Linked DNA regions of Homo sapiens. The main gene of each other region encodes a partner of the protein of the gene in region 2 in a complex. Each region holds a gene or a part of one and is shown on either strand. Other genes may lie near its edges. A codon is read from its position in the direction of its gene.

What was found.
Region 1: the proteins of MAD2L1 (region 2) and MAD1L1 are in contact, whole or in part, in a crystal structure (PDB 1GO4), measured with the Homo sapiens proteins. Residues at the interface, in NP_002349.1 of Homo sapiens: Tyr38, Leu61, Tyr64, Asn67, Val68, Trp75 (codon at 5,908), Gln82 (codon at 5,887), Lys83 (codon at 5,884), Ser89 (codon at 5,866), Ile91 (codon at 5,860), Glu92 (codon at 5,857), Ser93 (codon at 5,854), Gly94 (codon at 5,851), Arg99 (codon at 5,836), Gln101 (codon at 5,830), Ser150 (codon at 4,103), Phe151 (codon at 4,100), Asp152 (codon at 4,097), Leu153 (codon at 4,094), Leu154 (codon at 4,091), Ile155 (codon at 4,088), Tyr156 (codon at 4,085), Thr157 (codon at 4,082), Asp158 (codon at 4,079), Lys159 (codon at 4,076), Asp160 (codon at 4,073), Leu161 (codon at 4,070), Val163 (codon at 4,064), Lys166 (codon at 4,055), Trp167 (codon at 4,052); in NP_001013858.1 of Homo sapiens: Glu527, Arg528, Ala530, Leu531, Gln532, Gly533, Asp534, Tyr535, Gln537, Ser538, Arg539, Thr540, Lys541, Val542, Leu543, His544, Met545, Ser546, Leu547, Asn548, Pro549, Thr550, Ala553, Arg554, Leu557.
Region 3: the proteins of MAD2L1 (region 2) and MAD2L1BP are in contact, whole or in part, in a crystal structure (PDB 2QYF), measured with the Homo sapiens proteins. Residues at the interface, in NP_002349.1 of Homo sapiens: Tyr33, Arg45, Thr52, Leu54, Lys122 (codon at 4,770), Asp126 (codon at 4,758), Glu127 (codon at 4,755), Arg129 (codon at 4,749), Ser130 (codon at 4,746), Arg133 (codon at 4,737), Gln134 (codon at 4,734), Thr136 (codon at 4,728), Ala137 (codon at 4,725), Thr138 (codon at 4,722), Thr140 (codon at 4,716), Phe141 (codon at 4,713), Leu142 (codon at 4,710), Leu144 (codon at 4,704), Glu179 (codon at 4,016), Val181 (codon at 4,010), Arg182 (codon at 4,007), Leu183 (codon at 4,004), Arg184 (codon at 4,001), Tyr199 (codon at 3,956), Asp205 (codon at 3,938); in NP_055443.1 of Homo sapiens: Pro61, His79, Tyr82, Gln83, Gln85, Pro88, Leu89, Pro90, Gln93, His96, Ala185 (codon at 1,909), Leu187 (codon at 1,903), Arg188 (codon at 1,900), Phe191 (codon at 1,891), Arg192 (codon at 1,888), Phe195 (codon at 1,879), Asp198 (codon at 1,870), Ala199 (codon at 1,867), Phe200 (codon at 1,864), Ser201 (codon at 1,861), Glu202 (codon at 1,858), Leu203 (codon at 1,855), Gln204 (codon at 1,852), Ala205 (codon at 1,849).

Annotation. Positions count from the first base shown.
Region 1 is NC_000007.14:1,816,160-1,824,842, forward strand, and holds part of MAD1L1 (mitotic spindle assembly checkpoint protein MAD1), read right to left. Parts: intron 70-8,683; coding exon 1-69. UniProt on the Homo sapiens protein: Component of the spindle-assembly checkpoint that prevents the onset of anaphase until all chromosomes are properly aligned at the metaphase plate.
Region 2 is NC_000004.12:120,056,186-120,064,868, forward strand, and holds part of MAD2L1 (mitotic spindle assembly checkpoint protein MAD2A), read right to left. Parts: intron 5,911-8,683; coding exon 5,790-5,910; intron 4,793-5,789; coding exon 4,689-4,792; intron 4,106-4,688; coding exon 3,933-4,105; 3' UTR 1-3,932. UniProt on the Homo sapiens protein: Component of the spindle-assembly checkpoint that prevents the onset of anaphase until all chromosomes are properly aligned at the metaphase plate.
Region 3 is NC_000006.12:43,637,885-43,642,169, reverse strand, and holds the end of MAD2L1BP (MAD2L1-binding protein), read right to left. Parts: intron 2,150-4,285; coding exon 1,637-2,149; 3' UTR 1,229-1,636; downstream 1-1,228. UniProt on the Homo sapiens protein: May function to silence the spindle checkpoint and allow mitosis to proceed through anaphase by binding MAD2L1 after it has become dissociated from the MAD2L1-CDC20 complex.

The DNA.
Region 1 (8,683 bases), on a different chromosome or scaffold from region 2:
GAGCTCGCCCACGGTGTGTGAGAACTCTGTCTCCAGTAGCTGCATCTTGGAACCCGAGGGGCTGGTGGCCTGCGGGGCAGTCAAGAAAGAGACAAGACAGCGGTCAGCCCGACAGGCCTCTCCCTCTCCCCTCCCTCCCTACACAGCCCCTCCAGCCATGGGGGCTTCCCTCAGTCTGAGGACCTGGACAGGGGTAGATGCGTCCTCAACCCTGCCAGGCCTTATTCCAGGTCACCTAAAGGGACTGAATTAACCCAGGGCAAGGTCTCTGTTGTCTACACTGTCATCTACCCAGGCAGTTGGGGGTCCCAGGCACTGTGGGGTGTGCCCACCCAAGGGGCTGCCACCTTGCTCCTTCCTCCACCTGGGGGGCTCCAGCACCTGTGCCAGGCCCTAGTGCCACTCTTCACTGAGGCTGGAGGACCCCACGCCCTGGGCAAGTCCTGCAACGCCTTCCACACTGCCTGGGCCCCATGACCTAGTTTCCCCACTTGTGCAGGGGGGCGCTGGGGGCCCAGGGGGAGTCTGGCTCTGTGGATTCTGCAGCCCAGAGGGCGGCCTCCTGTAACTGGAGAACGGGCAAGGAGGAGCTTCCAGACAGCGCTGCAGGCCCCAGGGGACACAGGGCAGGAGTCACACAGCAGGTCTGAGCAAGCTGCTGTGCCACGGTCCTGGGCTGTGTGGGGAGTGGACAGAGGCCCTTCTGAGCTGCCCCCGAGAGCCAGCCCCACCCCGGTCAGCACCCACACAGCCCCAGGTCAGGCAGGACACAAACCCGGCCCACCACAAAGCTCCCTCTGAAACCACGTCCCTGAAAAGTCCTGTACCCAGAATATGCCCAGAACTCCCACAACTCCACCATGAAGAGGAAAGAGCCAATTAAACAAGGGGCCCTTGAACATTTCTCCAGAGAAGAGCCACACACGGCCAATGAGCTCATGCCAGGACGCTGGGCACCGGGGAAACGTGAACCGCAACTGAGCGAGACACGGAGCCGCCTCGCGCCGACGGCCACTGAGAGCAACCACCATGAGCTGCTGGGTCGAGGGGAATCAGACCCTCCGCGTCGCTGGCGGGAGCGTGTGTGGTGCGGCCACTGCAAACAGCCGGCAGCTCCTCAAAGAGCTGGACGCAGAGTCCATGGGCCCAGCACCCGCCCGGGCGCGCAGCCAGGGGGTCTGAGCGCAGTCCACGCACAGACCTCGGCACGGGTGTCCACGGCAACACGATCCCATCACCAACAGATGGAACGCGGAACCAGCCCTCAACCGCCGGAGGGAGACACAAAACCGGGTTTACCCGTCAACACCGCTTCGTACAGCCGAACTCTGATACACGCTGCCACGCGGGCAAACCCCGAAAACACGCCCAGCCAGTCACAGAGACCTGTCGACACAACTCCGTGCCCAGGGGATGTCCTGGAGGGGCACGTCAGGGCTCAGGGCCAGTGGAAATGTGCCACGGTTAGACTGGTCGCGGCTGCGCACTGAATGTGCCGGGAGGAACGGAACGGTAGACTAATGGAGCGCTAGACGTGAGGGTGAGCTGCATGTGTGTGCATCGGAGCTCAGGAAACCGTTTTGGAAAGCGCTCCCTCCGCCCGGCAGCCCTCTGGGAACCCTCCCCAGGAGCCACAGGGCGGCCTGGCTCCATCCAGCTTGGTCCTGGCAGCTCCCCTGTCCACCGGAGCATGCCTGGGCTGGGCCCCGCCCTGATGGTGTCGCCCCTCCCCTCACCACCTTTGGAGCACGTGCTGCCCCAGAGGCCCTGCGACCTGACCTGTTCCTGCACCTCCTGTTTCTCAGGAGCCGTCCCCGTGCCCTCCCCCTGCCCTCCCCCTGTTTCTGCTGCCTTAGTACATTTGGCCTTGTCATAGTTCAACACAAACCATTTTTAAACAAAAACAAGAGAAACCACTCTGACCTTTCGCTGAGAAAATCCTTTCACTTCTGCCTTCTGCTCTTGATTCTGAATTTCTCCCCCTAAATGTCAGAGGGGCTGATTCTCCTGCAGCTGCCGGGCAGGGGTGGGGAGGCAGTGTGGGAAGAAGTCTCCTCAGCCGGCCCTTCGCCCTCCTCCCAACCCAGGGCTGGCAACCTGGCTGGGCCTGACGCACTGTGGTGCAGACTCTGGCCAGGCTGGACCAGAGAATAGCTGTTTTCCAGGCACCCGCCTTCCCCGGCCCTCAGAGGCTGGCAGGCTTTGGGAGCCTGGCCGTTCATTTCTAAAAATATTTTTTTTTAGAGACGAGTCTCACTCTGTCACCCAGGCTGGAGTGCAGTGGCATGATAACGGGTCACTCAGCCTCGAGCTCCCGGACTCAAGTGATCCACCTCAGCCTCCTGAGCAGTTGGAATGACAGGCATGTGCCAGCACACCTGGCTAATTTTTAAATTTTTTTGAGAGATAGATAGACTTTAGCTATTTTGCCCAGGCTGGTCTCAAACTCCTGGCCTGGCTGGTCTCAAACTCCTGGCCTGACGTGATCCTCCTGCCTCAGCTGCCCACGACGTGAGGATTACAGGCGTGAGCTCTGATCATTCTTTATTTGAAACAGGTGCACCCCGCCAGCGTCAGCAAGACAGCTGCTCCCAATGGTAGGCCGGGCAACCCACTCACGGCTCCTACAGCACCTCCTCTCTGCCGGCCTCAGGCGGCTCTGGAAGAATGATGCCCTAATATACCGCGCTGCCCTCCAGGTGGGGGTGGGGGTGGACGGAGACAGGCAGGAGTAACCAGTGCTACTCTCCCAGCTCAAACCCCACACGAAGGCAGACCCAGCGTTTGCAAAACACCAGCCCCCGGTGAACAAGTCGACCTGCTGTGCAGCCCACCTCTGACTCCGTTTCCCCCAGCGTACCCAGCCACATTGGGAGGCTCCACCTCGGTCTAACGCTCCGGCATTAGCAGGACCTGCTGAATGAGTGGCGCCGGGCCCATCCATCTCTGCCATCGCTGCTCAGCCCTCTGCCATGTTCAAATATCACACAGTCCCCAGGTACCTCGTAAATCACTGTAATTACGGGCTGCTCACTTAAAATTAAACTGCAATTTTTTAAAAAGCAAATTGCCAGTAAGACACGTTGGCTGTGGCTGGAAATACTTCTGAGGCTGCCTGCGCGCAGGCTCTGGCTTCCTCTCCCTCTGCCTGGCCGGCCCGAGCTGCCACCTGTCTAGTCTGCGCACATAGCGGCCCTGTGGCTGGCGGGCGCCCTGGGGGAGACTGAGACACTCACTCTTAATGAAGACACTCGCGGCGTCCATTGTGGCCACTGCACTCTAGTCCAGACCCTCGCTGGCCTGGCCTGGGGCTCACCTGCCCCTCTGGAAGCAGAGAGGGCCTGCCCTGGAGGGCCGGGGACCTCTGCAGCATGTCCGTGGAACACGTGGGCCAGGGATTGTGTGCCCGGCCCCCATTCCAGCTCTGCCACGTGAGCAGTGCTCACTCGGTGCCTAGGGCTGACTAGTCTTACTAAGCGCTGGTCCCACCATCCCCTGAGCCGAGCCCCATGGTGTCCCAGCGGGCACGGACAAGAGGCACGGAGTGAGGGAGGGGTGGGGGCTGACAAAGGGCTTGGAGAGCAGAGACAGCGCACACCACCAACTCTCTCCACACACCACTTTCTCCACACACCACCAACCGCAGGATGTGGTGGGGCTCGGAGGCCAAGGGGGAAGTGTGAGGGATTCCTGTCAAGAACAAGACCCCCTGCTGCTGAGGGTCCAAGAGAAACTCCATGAACTGGGAAACTCGAGGGGAGGAAGCTAGAGATGGAATGAAGGAAGCCCTGAATCCTGGCTCAAACAAGGAAAGCTGAAATAATGCAGTAAAATGAGAAGACACGCAGGAAATGGAAACGATGCTACTTCGAGATACTGGGAAGTTATGTGAATGCTGTTCATCTGTGGGGTGGCGTGAAGAGGTGGAGGCCACACCAGTGGACATCAAAACCAGAAACCAGTCAGAGAAAGACAACAGGAAAACTGTAAGTGCCTGGAAATTAAACAGCACACTTCTAAGTAATCCACGAGTCAAATGGGATGCCTCGAAGGAAATAAAAAAGAGAACAGAATGGAAACAAGAATACAGCATAATGAAATTTGCCAGACGCACCCAAGGCAGTGCTTAGAGGGAAACGGACAGCACTCAATGCCTGTATCAGGAAAGGAGAAAGATCTCAAATCGCTTCTCTAAATTCCTACTTCAAGAAACGAAGGGAAAAACAAGCCCGAAGCAGGAGGAGGAAATAATACAAGTAGGAATGAACAGGAAAACAAAAGTTATTAAAACCAAAAACTGCTTCTTTAAAAAATAGCAATAAGGCCGGCCAGGAGCAGGGCTCACACCTGTAATCTTTGCACTTTGGGAGGCCAAGGTGAGAGGATCACTTGAGCCCTGGAGTTTGAGACCAGCCTGGACAACACAGTGAGACCCCATCCCTATAATCAATCAGCCAGGTGTGGTGGCATACACCTGTAGCCCCAGGTATGTGGGATCACGTGGGCCTAGGAGTTTGAGGCTGTAGTGAGCTATGATCACACCACTGCACTCCAGCCTGGGCAACAGAGTGAAACCCTGTCTCAAAAATTTGTTAGAAAGACCAGCAACGATAAATTGATAAACCCCTGGCAAAACTGACAAAGATTAAAAAGGGGGAACGCCTGTAATCCCAGCACTTTGGGAGGCCGAGGTGGGCGGATCACGAGGTCAGGAGATCAAGACCATCCTGGCTAACACAGTGAAACCCCATCTCTACTAAAAATACAAAAAATTAGCCGGGTGTGGTGGCGGGTGCCTGTAGTCCCAGCTCCTTGGGAGGCTGAGGCAGGAGAATGGCATGAACCCAGGAGGCGGAGCTTGCAGTGAGCCGAGATCGTGCCACTGCACTCCAGCCTGAGCAACACAGCGAGACTCCATCTCAAAAAAAAAAAAAGGGGGGGGGGAGAGTGAAATGACCAATATCAGAAATGAAATGGAAATATTATAATAGATCCAGAAGCTATTAAAATAACAATAAAAAATACTACAACAAAACTTGATGCTCATAACAAACTGGATGGATTCCTCGAAAACCACATACTACCAAAACGTGCCAAGATAAAATAGCCTCGGTAGTCCTATAACCATTAAATAAATCAAGTTTGTTCTAATTAAAATGCTACTCAAAATCTCCAGTCCCAGATGGTTTCACTAGAAAGTTTTACCGAACATTAAATATGAATTAATACCAATTTTACACAATCCTTTTTCAGTTAACAAAAGACAGAGAAACACCTTTCCACTATGAACCCTGTACTGAAACCAACAAGGATGGTGCGCACACAAAGAAAAATAAGTATCAGTCTCTCATGAGCTTAGCTGCAAAAATACTCAACAAGGACTAACAAATGGAATCCAGCAACACACGAAAAAGAGTATCACACCCTGACCAAGTGGGATTCAGTTTAGGTGTACAACGACGGCTAGTTCAAATTTGAAAATCAATCAATGTTATCCACCCTATCAACAGGCTAAAGGAAGACAATGATATGATCCTATTGGCACAGGCAAAGCATTTGAAAAAATTTAATCTCCATTCCTGACAAGAACTCTTGCAAAGCAGGAATCAAGGGAAAGTCCTCCGACTTGGTAAAAAGCACCACGAAGAACCCTCAGCTCACGCTGCTTCACGGAAGAGTCTGGCCGCCTTCCCTCATTCGGTCAGCGGAGAGCTGGCTTTCCCCACTCATCCTCAACCCAGCATGGGAGCTCCTCACGCCAGGGCATGCAGGTAAGAAAAGGAAAGCAGCAGCATAGGGATTGGAAAAGAACAGAACTGTCCCTACTCGGAAATCACATGACGGCACACGTGGAAAACCCTAAGCAATCTGCAGAAAACTCCTAGAATGACGTGACGGCCCACGTGGAAAATCCTGAGCAATCTGCAGAAAACTCCTGGAACACTAAGTGAGTCCACGAAGGTTGCAGGAAATAAGATGAACATACAAAAATTAACCACATTTCTATAAAGCAATTGCAAACAAGTGAAAAACAAAATTAAAAGGCAATATAATTTACAGAACATCTTAAATACTCGGGTATACATCTAACAAAAACTTGTATAGTGTCTGTTTGCAGAAAGTTAGGAAATACTGATGAAAGGAATCGAAAGGAATAAAAAGAATGTTTGTATAAATAGATACAATGTTTATGAACTGGAAGACTTATAGTAAATCAATTTTTCCAAAATTGATCTTTGGTTTTAAGGTAATTGCTGTCCAAACCTCAGCATATATATATATATTTTTTTTTTTTTTTTGGAAAGAGGGTCTTATTCTGTCACCCAGGCTGGAGTGCAGTGGTGTGGTCTTGGCTCACTGCAGCCTCAGGCAATCTTCCTGCCTCAACGTGCCAAGTAGCTGTAACTACAGGTGCGCACCACCACTCATGGCTGTATTTTTTTCATAGAGATGGGGTCTCCCTGTGTTGCCCAGGCTGGTCTCCCAACTCCTGGGCTCAAGCGATCCTTTTGCCTTGGCTTCCCCAAGTGTTGGGATTACAGGCGTGAGCCACCATGCCCGGCCAGCATTTTTTTTTTTTTTTTTTGGTAGAGAGACACAAGATTATTCTAAAATGTATATAGAAAGCAATTCCAAAAAAGAAGAGTAGAGGAATTGCCCTTCCTGATGTTGAGAACCGTACAGCTACAGCACAGCGTTATACGGCTCCTACGTCAGACAGACATGGCTGGGGCAGCGCTGGAGGGGAGATGTGGAGACCAGCAGAACAGAACAGAGGAACTCGAAAGAGACCCACAGACGCGTCCAGGCCACTTTCTAACAGAGAATATTATGCCGTGACCAAGTGGGACTTCGTTTAGGTGTACGAGGCTAGCTTGGTATTTGAAAATCAATCAATGTAATCTGCTATATCAACAGGCTAAAGAATAAACAACATATGACCCTATTAATCGATACGGAAAAGTCACAGAAAAGTCACAAAGGCGCTTCAGTGGAGGAAGGGCAGCCTTGTCTTTGCTACAGCTGGAGCCGGAGGAGCTGGACACACTTAGTTAAAAAAAAATTTTTTTGACCGAAACCTCACATCTCAAATAAAATTTAACTCAAACTGTATCACGAACTTACATGTAAAACACAGAATTATGTTAAAAAAGAAATCTTCAGGATCTGGATGAGGCAGAGCTCTGACACTCAACACCAAAGCACAATCCACAGAATAAAATTAAAATGGATAAATGGGCCTCGCCAAAATTTTAGGAAATTGCACAGTGGAAGAGCCTGTGAAGCAGATACAAGGATAAGCTACACGACAGGGCGCCAGCGTCTCCCTGCCCATCTCTCCTAGAACGCCACGGCCACAGGGGACCCTGGCACCTGGAGGGGTGACTGCAGCGTCTTAACCCCAAGTGGGATTCCTGCCTGTGCCCTGGCCCCACAGGGCAAGGCCCACATCTGTCTTGCTTCTCTCTTTTCCCAGAACAGACCTCACCAGGCTGGAGAGTGGCCTGGGCACAGAGGCCGGGCCTGTGGCATCAGCGGCCATCGTGAGGGCAGAGCGCCCAGGCATTCTCAGACACACCCCTGCTCCCACTGGCCTTCCTGGGAGAAGCACCCCCTTGTTCCAGATGAGAAGCCGCAGCTGCTGGGCCGGGGGAGGCATGAATATTTCATGCTTGGATCTGCAAGCGCCACGCACCTAACTGGACACAGCTCCAGGCGCCTGCTTCCCTGAAGCCCAATCCTCCTGTCATTGGTGTGCTGCAAGCGCCGCTCCGGAGCAGGGCTCTGTGTGGGGAGAGGAAAGGAGCCCTCGGGGGAAGTTATGCTGGGAGCCCATTTGTGGGGGGACGGAGAGCGGGAAGCAAGGTCCATGAGGATGGGGTGTCCTGCAGCTGGGTCCTGACCGGGGGCTGCTCCCTCTCCTGGGCCTAGGCACTGCAGGAAAATGGCAGGTAGTCAGCCTGCCACCACCTCCCGGCCACCAGCACACACCCTCAACAGACCTTCCAGATAGACGGCTCAATCCTGACTTGAGCACTGCCGGCCCCAACGCCTCCCCTCTTACACCACCTGCTTGTGCGGGCCTGGTGGCAGAGCTGCCGACATCGGGGGCTTTCGCACCCACCAGAACTAGCTTCTAACCTCGGCTTGGCCACCAGGAAGCTGCGTGACCCTGGGCACACCGACACACCTCTCTTGAGCCTGGTCTGCACGCTGGGCATTGCCGAGAAGACTAACGAAGTCAGGTGCGTAAAATCACCGGGCTCAGGGGAGACACAGAGCACAGTGGGATGAGGAAACCCTGTGCCCACGTTACCCCGGGCCATGAGGACAGCAGCTGCCCCGTGCCCTGGCGCCATCGGATGGCCTCTACTGGGAAGTGAGCTGCTCCCGGCCTTGTCCCCACCTCGCTGCAGCAGGACTGGTTGTCTGCCAGGCCCCGGAGCCCCCAGGCTTCCCACAGAGGCTCCCCCACCAGGACCCGCGGGAGAGGAGAGGGGCGTGCCTGGATGGCATCTGCCGGGGCAGCCATAGGTCCCTGTGAACCTCGCTTGTAGAATACACCTGCTCTCAAAGCCAGCGAAGGGGAGATTTTTTTTTGTCTTGAGGCTGTCAGGAAATCAAAGTGTTTTCAACTTCAAAAGACTCTCCGGGCGTCTCAAGTTGAGAATCTGACGCGTCC
Region 2 (8,683 bases):
CTAAACTTCAAAAACCACGACACAATTTGCATGCCCATTGACCCCCAGTTTTACTTGTGCACAAAAGCATGAGAATTAAATAAAAATTCATGTGAAGTGACTAGTAAATAATAAATGCTAAGTGTTTATTCCCCTAATGTATTTATATATTTGTTGCCAGGAATTCCAATGCTGAGTAACCTTGCTTTTCCAATAAGCTTACAGCCTTTAGAACCAAAAGAAAGTCATCTTAATTTGAATATTACAGCATTAGTGACATCTGGTGGAAAATATAAGAGTTACAAAGTAGCATTACATAGCTATTCTGATCTTTCATGTAAATTTTAGATAAATTTTACATACTAAATGAAAACAAGATGAAGAAATGGTCTATGAAGTTATCTACCTTATTGTGCTAATAATCTTTGAATCTATATGCTAAAATATATAGGAAGTCAGTATAATTAGCATTATACTAATAAAAACATTTTTCAGCATGCATGTCTATATAGTGAAAAAATGATTAAAAATAGGCATGGGCTCTTTATCCTATTGTGAGTCTCATAAAAAGGGTCTCTTTTTTAAAGGAGAGCCCATACCTCTCTTTTTATGGCATCACATGCCAAAGAACCTCCCTTAACAAGTTTTCAGATCAAATTGTGAACTGTGGGGTGTGTTAGGAAGTATGTCAAGAAAATAGCTGGTTGTGCTTCAGAGAATATGGAATTTAGGTATATTTGGGAGAGACATTCTGTTTGAGATACTATGGATGGAGGCAACAAACGATGTTTTACAAGTGAGCTTTAAATATTACGGTATCAAATGCTCTGAACTAGGGAGGGGTTCAAGTATTTGTGACCAAAAGAGCAAACTGTGATCTGTTACAGGACTGGTAAGCTACAACCCTGGGGCCGAAGCAAACAGCCATGTTTTTTTCTTATTGGAACACACTCACGCTCATTCATTTATGTATTGTCTATAGCTGCTTTCAGCCTCGAGTAGGTGCAAGAGACCATATGCCTTCAAAAGCAGAACTATTTACTACCTGGCCATTTACAGAAAGTTTGCCAACCTCTAGTCCATTAGATAACTGTCATCAAACTTCTCGGTGCCATTCCCACCACCTCCATGGGAGGAGTATACTTCCTGGTCCCATTAAAGTTAGGCTTGACCTTCACTTGCTTTGGTCAGTGTGAAAAAGCTGGCCTTCAGAGTCCTGACTAACCAATGTCCCTCCAACAGAATGAGAAAGGTGCAGCAAAAGCCAACCAATACATGAGACTGTTATACCTCTGCACAAGCATTCTCACAGAGGTTTGACTTCTCTGATTGATGACACTGGGAAAAGGATCCTGAAAGCCAGATACAGTTCAGTTCCTCCTGGGCTCTACTTCAGACCTTGATGGGCTTAACCTCTGTTCATCCTCTACATATGGTAAGCAACACTGAGCCAGAGTCCAGGCCAGGCCTAGAGGCCTATCATGCTGTCTTAGAACCTTCTCTTTAACATGGTGTAGAAACCACTCACAAGTCTTTCAGCTGTTGATTTAAACATCATCCTCCTGAGGTAAGCCTCAAGGTCTAGAAAGAGGATGGGACAGTCCACTTGGAGCTACAGGGCAAAGCTTTTCCAGTATAGCTTCACCTCAATAAAACTCATAGTTTGGCTCCCACTCAGCTCCAAAATGTGTATTTCTTTTTTATTTATTATTTTTTGAGATGGAGCCTTGCTCTGTCGCCCAGGCTAGAGTACAGTGGCACGGTCTTGGCTCACCGCAACCTCCACCTCATGGGTTCAAGCGATTTCTCCTGCCTCAGCCTCCCAAGTAGCTGAGATGCGCCCGCCACCACGCCCAGCTAATTTTTATATTTTTAGTAGAGACGGGGTTTGACCATCTTGGCCAGGCTGGTCTCAAACTCCTGATCTCGTGATCCACCTGCCTCGGCCTCCCAAAGTGCTGGGATTACAGGCGCGAGCCACTGCGCCCAGCCCAAAATGTGTATTTCTTAATTGATTATATAATCTGTAAGGGGTAAAATGACTCATCATGACTAGCTCTCCAGAAACCTCAGAGTAAATAGTAGCATGCAAATGATACAAAAATCTAAGAATTTAATCCTGTTAATATTGGTAGCTGAGTTGAAATGACCAGAGTATACACACAACCTTTAAAAATGTGATTTCAGCCGGGCGCAGTGGCTCACGCCTGTAATCCCAATGCTTTGTGAGGTCAAGGCGGGCAGATCATGAGGTCAGGAGTTCAAGACTAGCCTGGCCAACATGGTGAAACCCTCTCTCTACTAAAAATATAAAAATTAGCCAGGTGTGGTGGCACGTGCCTGTAATCCCAGCTACTCAGGAGGCTGAGACGGAAGAATGGCTGGAATCCGGGAGGCAGAGGCTGTAGTGAGCTGAGCTGCGTCACTGTACTCCAGCCTGGGCGACAGAATAAGACTCCATCTTGGGGGGGAAAAGTGATTTCGCAGAATTTAGTCTGACTTCTCAAATAGTTAAAATACAAATGAAGCATTTAATTGCCACTTTTCTTGAAATCATCTAGGTTGGTAACACCAGTGGTCCACTTATTCCATAAAGATATGAAGAGTCTACAAATTTGTCACTGAGAACCCAGAAACTGCCACTGATCCACAGTATTTGCTCAATATGTAATTTCTGAATGAACAGATTCAGACTATGTGCAATTACTTAAAAATAGTGAAGGTTAAATAAGTTAATACACATAAAGAACTTAGTGTCTAATAATAAACATTAATAAACTGAATTTTTACAAAATGAGGTCAGATTTAGATTAGAGATTAGAGAAGACTTTACAAATCTGCCTTAAACTGACCTTGGAAAAACAGGTGAGAACTGGATAGAAAGCATGTACCAGATGAGGGTATTAATGAAAGCACAGGAATAAGCATAGTATTTAAGTATATAAGGAAAAGTAGGCTGACAATAAGGCTAAGAGTATAGTAAAGTACTAAAATCAACACTTGTTCAACTGGAATTGTTGGACTAATTCCAAAGGACATTTATCTTTTCACAATGATGAAGTAATAGCCTTAAGTCTATTGCTATGAGATGAACAGGATGTGATCAAAGTTTATCCATTAGATTGAAGACACCTCAAGACTCACTCAACTTTGGACCCTTAAGTTCTATAACTTCGTAGGAACAAGAATTCATTAGCTATGCTGAATCAATTCTAATTACCATTTAACTATATCAACACCAAACCAGTATCAAAATGTTTTAAGACAAATTTAAAACAAACTTAACTTTATTTCCTCACTTTCACTTAAAACTTGATTTTATAAAACACATGAAAAAACATTTTTAAGAGTTCTGTATCACAGAACATTAAACAGTACAAATATCCATTGCTTCATAGGTTCAAGTTACATAAATTAAAGTCAAATAATTGGAAACTGATTCAATAGGGAAAACTATACATGAAATGAAGGTCAAAAGGAGCTATACAGCAATATTTCATTGTTTATAGATTATGAGTTACTTTCAGGACCTTAACAAAGATTCTGAATATTTAGACTTCCTTTGTTGTATTTTATACTTAAATATCTCCCTACCTATACTGAGTCAAACTACTTGACCAAAACATCTGATTTAGGAAAGCATCTAGCTTTATAGCACAAGTTTTTCCATCTACAGTTACTATCTTCAAAGGAATATACATCACAATGTTGACAAAAAAACCTCCTGGTTCCTTTTGAACAATGTGCAATAAATTCATGATGTTAACTCCATGGTAAGTCAAATAGGTACCAAAAAAATAAAAGGAACAATTACACACAGTTCAGTAAGTATCATTTTGGTTTTCTCCATGTAAAAATTAACCAATGAAATAAAACATATCAACTATAGATGACTTGATTTCAGGAAAACCACATTTCAAAATTACAATTACATTATTTTCCTCATGTCATCCTCAGTCATTGACAGGAATTTTGTAGGCCACCATGCTATTTACTTTGTGGATTGTAGTAGTAAATGAACGAAGGCGGACTTCCTCAGAATTGGTAATAAACTGTGGTCCCGACTCTTCCCATTTTTCAGGTACAACCAAATCTTTGTCTGTATAAATCAGCAGATCAAATGAACCTAAATTGGGGATAAGATCATTGAAGTATATTATTTTCTAAAAGTAAAACTAATCTTGCTGCCTCTCTTCTATTTTGAACCACTCACTGCTGGAAAAGGTCATTTGGCTTGGTCTCCAATCACTAGTTAATTTATTTTGCTCAATGAACATTTATTTCAGTAAAGAAAATATTGTATCTAACTTCCGTGCAATTTAGTGATTGTGTTCAAGTAACCCTTATCTTATTTAATAATGGTCCCAAAGCACAAGAATAGTGATGCCAGCATATTGTTATAATTGTTCCAGTTTATTATTAACTCTTACTATGCTTAATTTACATATTAAATTTTATCATAGGTATGTATGCATAAGAAAAAAACATTATATAGGGTTCATACTATCCATGGTTTCAGGTATTCACTGTGGGTCTCCCTGTGGAAAGGGAGACTACGATACATTACTTTTGCATGATAATGTTTTTCCTTCAATTTATATTACATAAATCTGATAAATAAGACAAAATTTAATAAAGGGGTGATTACGGCAGTAGCTTAGTCTTTTTGCCAATCAATTTAATTCAACAAGAAGTTGTATAATACTTACAAGAAACTTCCAACAGTGGCAGAAATGTCACCGTAGCTGTGATCTGTCTGATCACTGAACGGATTTCATCCTGGATAGCTTTCTGAGACTTTTCTCTGGGTGCACTGTCAAAAAAAAATCAAATCAATTAATTCATTTCAGGTCTTAACAAATTATTTCAAACATAGTGGTTAGATTATTTATCTGATTAAATGCTCTCAACATCAAATAAGCAGGGCTTATTTGAGAAAGGAGGTTTGTAAAAAATGTGAGTGAAAGTATCCTTCAGACCTACAACCTAGTAGGCACAACATTCATCCTTATTACTTCATTTATCCTGCCAGTCATCTTTTAGAGCTGGTCTTAGTGTCAGGTCATTTAGTATCAGATGACTAGAAAATTTGCCAATCACTTCAAGTTCAGGAAACTTCAGCATCTCTTGAAATAAAAATAAGTGATATCTAAAATATGTATTGGTATAATCATTTCAGCATTTTTAGTAATGCCTAAATGTCTAATTTCCTATTTTCTCAAATAAAACATTAAATTGTATATCAAATTATTTTATAAGCTAAAAATTTCCTAAAATACACCAAAGCCTTCAGAAGCAAACTACATTTCACTATAAGAAATGGTTCTCAGTTTATAGAAGAGCATGCCTAGGACAATGCATTTCTCTTCCAGGGAGTCTGGAACCTTCAGAAATTTATGAAGTGTCTTAGGAAGTAGATGGCATTAAAGGAAGTACAGCAGAGCTACATCTTAAATTGTGTGAGTCTAATATCATTCCTTATAGTTAAAAATATCTTAGAACAATTATTAAATGGTTCATCTAGTATATCATGTGTAGTTTTGTATATATCACCATAAATACTGTTTGAAAACTACTGATTTAGACTAAAGGCAATTATGTTAAAATTATATTATATATACAAATCAATGATATGCTAAACTGAGCACAATTCTTTTCCATAGGTGACTGAGGATATCTTAGAAAATATAAATTAGAAACAAACTATATTTTATATAAAACTAGTTCAATACAATTAGAACTCAATTAGTAATAAAAACAAGTTTTGAAAAAAAATATATCAAAGTAGAAATAATGTAATTCCTATTTACCTGTCATCTTTTGCAGTCTTGTCACACTCAATATCAAACTGCCATCTTTCCAGGACCTCACCACTTTCAATATTTGAGATAACTACAACCAGTTTCTGAACTGAACACTTGTATAACCAATCTGCAACATATAAAAAGGAAGGCATCTTTCTTGGTCCACTGCATCATAAAGTAGCTCTCTTCTCGGGTCCCACTCCCTATCCTCAGCAAATTCCTACCACTGCTATCTGGGACCTCCTCCTATGTGCAAGAAAATTTGCACCATCAATAATCTAACTTCTGTTTTCAAATTCTCAGTATCTGTATCAGGTACAGTAATTGGTGCTGAGGACAGAATACTGAACATGTGGTAGTTTCATCCTAATCCAACATAAAAGCATAGGAGATGGGCATTAATCTACTCATCACACCAATAAATGAGAAATTATCATTGTAATGGCTGCTATGAAAGAAAGATGTAAGATGCAATGAGAGCATAAAAAAAGGAAAATTTGAGCCACTCAGGGAGGTCAGAAAAGGTCTGAGTTTAGCTCTAGGGATAAACAGCATTAAATATGCAAAAGGATACGAAAGAAGATACAGGCCTCAAATACTGCCAAGGGAAGAGCATATAGAGGGCTGGAAGCAGCCCACTACAAGTGCAATCAAGAAACAAACAAACAAAATAAAACAAAGTAATCCTTGCAAGATTAACAGGAGCCAGACCATGCAAAGCCTGGTGGATCAAATTAAAAAAATATATACTTCAAGACCAGGGAAGTCATTACTGTGTGTGAACAGGATGTAAAGCAATTAGACTTGTATTTCAAAACTATCATTCTAGCCGTGATACGGAAAGTGGACTGGAGATGTTAAAGAGGGGATCTAGAGACACTAGTTAGTCAATCAGTAATTCAAGCAAGAGTTAATGAAAGCTTGTAGGAGGATAAACTGGTAGATATGGAGCAATAGGTAGATTTAAGAGATTTCATGGTTAAAACGTATTGGGTTTAGTCACGATAGTAAGGAAGAAGCATGATTCAGGGACAGCTTCCAAGTTTCTTTTATTTCTGGCTGGACGGTTTAGTCATTCATTGAGAGAAAAAAAGAGAATTAAAGAGTATCAGTCTTGGAGATGATCCTAAATTTAGTTTTTAGTATACTTGAGTGTACATTGTCTCTGGGATAGCTACATAAAGATATAGCTGCTGGATATATGAGTCTGGAGAAAGAGGCTTGGGATAGATGTAAGTTTGTGAGCTGACTACACAGAGGTTGTTAGTGAAGCTATACACAGGTCAGAGATCACCTATAGAGAAATTATAAACACAGAACGGGGGCTCAGATTGAGCCTTGAAGTAATCTTGGAAATTGAAACAGCATATTCAGGAGTCAGCGAAGTTTTTGTAAAGAAACAGAGTAATTACTAAATATTTTAGGCTTATTGGCCACCAAGATCTCTGTTGCTTATTTTTAAACAAACCTGTAAGTGTAAAAACACTCTTAGCTTGTGGGCAGTGCAAAAACAGGCCACTTGTTGGATGTGGCCTGTGGGCCTTGTGATCCCTGGCATTTATCAACAACTTTTTATTAGTTTCACTCTGAAAAGGAGACTGGGTGGTAATTTGCTCTTCCTTTAAAACTGGAGAGATGAAACCAATGGGGATAATTAAAATCAAAACACAGAAGCAGAAAATATAAGAGAGAACAGGATAAAGACCCTGAAAAAGGCTAGAGGAAATTACATTCAAAACAAAACAATTGGCCAGCAAAACAAAACATGAGCAGCCACTCATGCCTGTAATCCCAGCACTTTGGGAGGCAGAGGTGGGTGGATCACGAGGTCAGGAGTTCGACACCAGCCTGGCCAAGATGGTGAAACCCTGTCTCTAGTAAAAATATAAAAATTAGCCAGGCACGGTGGCAGGCGCTTATAATCTCAGCTACTCGGGAGGCTGTGGTGTGGGGGCAGAGGTTGCAGTGAGCGGAGATCACGCCACTGCACTCCAGCCTTGGTGCCAGAGTGAGACTCCAAACAAAAAACAAACCGAACAACTTGCCTCTAGGGAAGAGCAATTTTTCCACTTTAACTAAAATAAAAGGGACAAGTTAAATAGGAAGGTCTAGACACAAATAAGGTGAAATGTCATTAACGCAGTCTCAAAGGAGACAACCTAAAAACCATTGGCTTAGGCAATGCTTGCTTCTCCAGCAAATTAAGATAAAAACACACATCCATAGTTGTCTAGAGGTTCCAGGCCAAACGACCTGAGTACAGCCCTATGAATCACTATAGATGATTTATTCCTGACCCCCAATTTTGGATGCAACTCTGGGAGAGGTGGACACTCTTATCAGTGTCTTTCCTGTGTACACTTGAGAACAGAGGTCTATTCCCACACCAAAAGAGGTCTCATCTTGCTATTTTGACAATACCAATCTACTATAGCAGAAGTTCTCAACCAAGGGCAGTTTTGTCCCCTAGGGCACATCTGGCAATATAATACATGGAGGCATTTCTGGTTGTCAGAGCAAGGGGGTTTGTTACTGGCATTTGGTGAGTAAAGGCCATAGTTGTTGGTAAACATTCTATAACACACAGAAAAGCACCCACACCAAAGCAAAGAAAAGCACCCATACCAAAGAAATACCCAGGCCAAAATGTCAACAGGGCTATCTTCCCTTGCCTGTTAATTTGAGACCTGACATCCACAGGTTGTTGTGGGATTCCCCTCCTGTACACATAAATGGCAAGGCAATGTTAACAGTTTATCTAGAGGATAGTATAGCTTGAAAGAGAGTTACCAAGCTAAAAAAGTTCACATGGCCATCATTGGAAGGGCATATTAAAAATGGGTTAGTAAAAATGCAATAAAAACGGTAAAAAAGACACATTTCTGGTCAACAACAAAAGA
Region 3 (4,285 bases), on a different chromosome or scaffold from region 2:
TCGGTTCACTGCAACCTCTGCCTCCCGGGTTCAAGCAATTCTCCTGCCCCAGCCTCCCCAAGTAGCTGGATTACAGGCACTCGCCACTAAGCCCAGCTAATTTTTGTATATTTAGTAGAGACAGGGTTTCACCATGTTGGTCAGGCTGGTCTTGAACTCCTGAACTTGTGATCCACCCATCTCAGCCTCCCAAAGTGCTGGGATGCCAGGCATGAGCTACCATGCCCAGCCTTTTTTTGTGTATTTTTAGTAGAGATGGGGTTTCACCATGTTGGCCAGCTGGTCTCCCTCCTGACCTCAGGCGATCTGCCCACCTTGGCCTCCCAAAGTGCTGGGATTATAGGCATGAGTCACCCACCTGGACTATACATACCATTTATATATTATACATACACACACATATACCTATCCCGAACATCAGCAAGGTGTGGATTCTGTCTTCAACTTGCTTCCAAAAACTGAGGTGTTTGGCCAGGCACAGAGGCTCCTCCCCTCTCACTATTCAGCACACACCTGCTCACAGTTTACTACAAACCAAGCACCTAGCCAGACTATTTCCCAAAATCACTGCTCTCATTCAATGGCCTGCTAAGCTAAGTTCCTTACCACAATCTTCCCACATAAAGGTGACCTCTGCTTTGGGGGATACAGAATTTAAGCATCACAAAAATCTGTATGGGATAAGAAAAGCACGTTGGCTAAAAGATAGCTAATGAGGACTCTAGTCCTAACTCTGCTATCAAACTACATATGCACTTGGCCAAGTCACTTAATTTCCTAGACTAGCCTGGGGCTGAACAAGAGAAAAAATCATTAGTAAAAAAATCCTAAGGCCAGGCACGGTGGCCCACACCTGTAATCCCAGCACTTTGGGAGGCCAAGACAGGTGGATCACTTGAGGGCAGGAGTTCGAGACCAGCCTGGCCAACATGGTGAAACTCCATCTCTACTAAAAATACAAAAATTAGCTGGGCGTGGTGGTGCACACCTGCAATCTCAGCTACTCGAGAGGCTAAGACAGGAGAATTCCTTGAACCTGGGAGGTGGAGGTTGCAGCGACCAAGATTGTGCCACTGTACTCCAGCCTGGGCGATACAGCGAGACTCCATCTCAAAAAAGAAAAAAGAAAAAAAAAAAAAATTCGAGAAGCCCTGAAGCAGAAGAGGCCAAGGAGAAAGACAAAATAGCCTAAAACCTGACAAGTTAAGTCAAAACAATTTCAGGAAAATATAATAAGAATCTATTTATTTTATATTTAAGTTCATAAGTCACATCCACATTATGTTCCTGGTAAAAATTCTGAAAGGACACAGCAAAGAGCAGAAAGGGACACCTCCATAGAGTGTCTATGGACCCATTTTTGCTTTCCAACTCCTAATAGAAATGCCTGACCCAGCACCCTCTGGGAAAATCAACCTTTGATTCAAAGAGATGTTGTTCAGCAATGATTACAGTCACAGTCACAGCCACATGCCATCAGCCTATCAGGAAATCTGAGGGGAGGCAGACAACCAGAAGGAGAGTTGCTTCCTCTCTCACCAGGAAGCAACTCTAGCTCCAAACCAGATGGGTGATTCAGCGCCACATGGAGAAAGATAATTCAGCCATTGTGTTTTTAGGATTAAGAAGCACTCATTCACTCGCGGAAGCCTTTAAATGTCACTGGTGCCTGGAACCAAATGTAGTCTTCCCAAGCCGTGGTTCGGATGGAAGGTCTGCCACATGACAGGGTCACAGTCAGTTTATGGCCCCGGCTGGGCACTCGATAGTTGAGCTTGGGTCGAAACCAATCTTCTCCACAGTTGCGGTGTCCCTGTGCCATGACGACGGTGCCCATGAGTGGAGGAGCCTGAAGCTCGCTAAAGGCATCAGCCATGAATATGGCTCGGAAGAGACGGCGCAAACAAGCTGCTGTGCTCAGGCTCTGGTCCACGCTGTAGGGGGCCAGCAGAGACAAGTCGAGTTCATAGAACTCCTTGGGGCTTAGGGCATTGCCCCCAAGGAGAATCAGCACTCGCGGTACTAGTGTCCGTGCAAAGAAGTCCTCCAGGTGGCTGAGGACACTCTCCAGTTCTGCCAGGGCTTGTTGGCATTTCCTGCTGCTCACCTCAGTGGTGGCCCGAGGTTTCTTCTTCAGCATCTCCTCTGCCTGTGAGGACAAAGAATGGTGGGAGAGAAGAACAAGGCAGGGGGAAGCTAATGCTCTTTGAAAAGAACCCTGCTGGGATGTGTACATAGACTTACAGGACTTAATTTCTAGCTCAATGAACCGCCACAGCCAAAACACTGTGTTTTATCAGAGGGTATTATACTGAAAAGGAAAATATATTATTTGTACAAAACCATAATTCTCCCACATTTAGAACAGCAAACACAGTGTTCTGAAGGTGGAGGATATCCAGATATAAGCAACTAAAATAGAAATTTGGTGACATGACAAAGTGACAACAAATTTTTGCTGTATGGGGAGTGATAACAGGAATGAGGATTATTTGGTCTAATAAACATGACTTTGAACTTGTTCTTCCACTTAAACATAGTAAACTGAACACATGCTTATTTGCACTTCCACCTGAAATATTACAAAATGAGAGAAAAGAAATTAAGAAACAAATGAAGGAAAGAAGAGGAAAGACTGACAAAGAAAACTCCCAAGAGGAAAGAACTGGAAACTACACAACACTAGCCAAATGCAAACACAGAAGTTTTGGAAGATAGAAGATGAAGAGTTGGCTGGGCGCAGTGGCTTACGCCTGTAATCCCAGCACTTTGAGAGGCCGAGGCGGGCGGATCACAAGGTCAGGAGATCAAGACCATCCTGGCTAACATGGCGAAACCCTGTCTCTACTAAAAATACAAAAAATTAGCCGAGTGTGGTGGTGGATGCCTGTAGTCCCAGCTACTAGGGAGGCTGAGGCAGGAGAATAGCCTGAACCCAGGAGGCAGAGCTTGCAGTGAGCTGAGATCACGCCACTGCACTCTAGCCTGGGTGACAGAGCGAGACTCTGTCTCAAAAAAAAAAAAAGAAAGAAGATGAAGAGTTAAGAGTTCAAGAGAGCTGAATACCAAGTGCTGACAGAAGGGACCCCCAAGGGATGCAAACTGATCCACACAGCAGAACCCCAGAAAGGTTTAGGAAGTGGTGATACAGGCACCACAGAGGCAAGAGTGAATATAGGGGAAATGAATGAAAATCTGTGTGAAGATGCTTAGATCATCTGCCAAATTTCTCCCCCATCCAGAGGGAAGACTTTCCAATCCCCACAAAGAGATCACCAGGTTCCCACCTAATCTCCTTATAGTGAAGTCTATCAGCTCATAAGGCCCAGGCATGCACACACAGCTTGCAATGATTTATTCTTTTTTTTTTTTTTGAGACAGAGTTTCGCTCTTTCGCCCAGGCTGGAGTACAGTGGCGCAATCTCGGCTCACTGCAACCTCCGCCTCCCGGGTTCACACCATTCTCCTGCCTCAGCCTCCCGAGTAGCTGGGACTACAGGCGCCCACCACCACGCCCGGCTAATTTTTTGTATTTTTAGTAGAGACAGGGTTTCACCATGTTAGCCAGGATGGTCTCAATCTCCTGACCTCGTGATTCGCCTGCCTCAGCCTCCCAAAGTGTTGGGATTACAGGCGTGAGCCACCGCGCCCGGCCAATTTATTCTTAAATATTCACCAGACACAGAATAAAACTCTCCAACATGAAAGTCAAAGTCCAGAACAAAACAAATGGGGAATGGATTCTAGAAGAAACTGAGATGCCGCAAGGAACAAAGAAAAACTTAAAAATTCAATAATTAATATCCTCAGGCAAAAGAAGTTCATGGCCTGGCGCAGTGGCTCACACCTGTAATCCCAACAACACTTTGGGAGGCTGAGGCAGGTGGATAACCTGAGGTCAGGACTTCGAGACCAGCCTGGCCAACATGGTGAAACTCCATCTCTACTAAAAATACAAAAATTAGCCAGGTGGGCCAGGAGCAGTGGCTCACGCCTGTAATCCCAGCACTTTGGGAGGCCAAGGCGGGCGGATCACTTGAGGTCAGGAGTTTGAGAGCAGCCTAGCCAACATTGCGATACCCTGTCTCTACTAAAAATACAAAATTTAACCAGGTGTGGTGGCACATGCCTGTAATCCCAGCTACTTCGAGGCTGAGGCAGGAGAATCGCTTGAACCCAAAGTGGAGGTTGCAGTGAGCCGAGATCGCTCCACTGCACTCCAGCCTGGGCCACACAAGAGCGAGACTCCTTCTCAAAAAAAGAAACAAACAGGCGGAGCACGGTG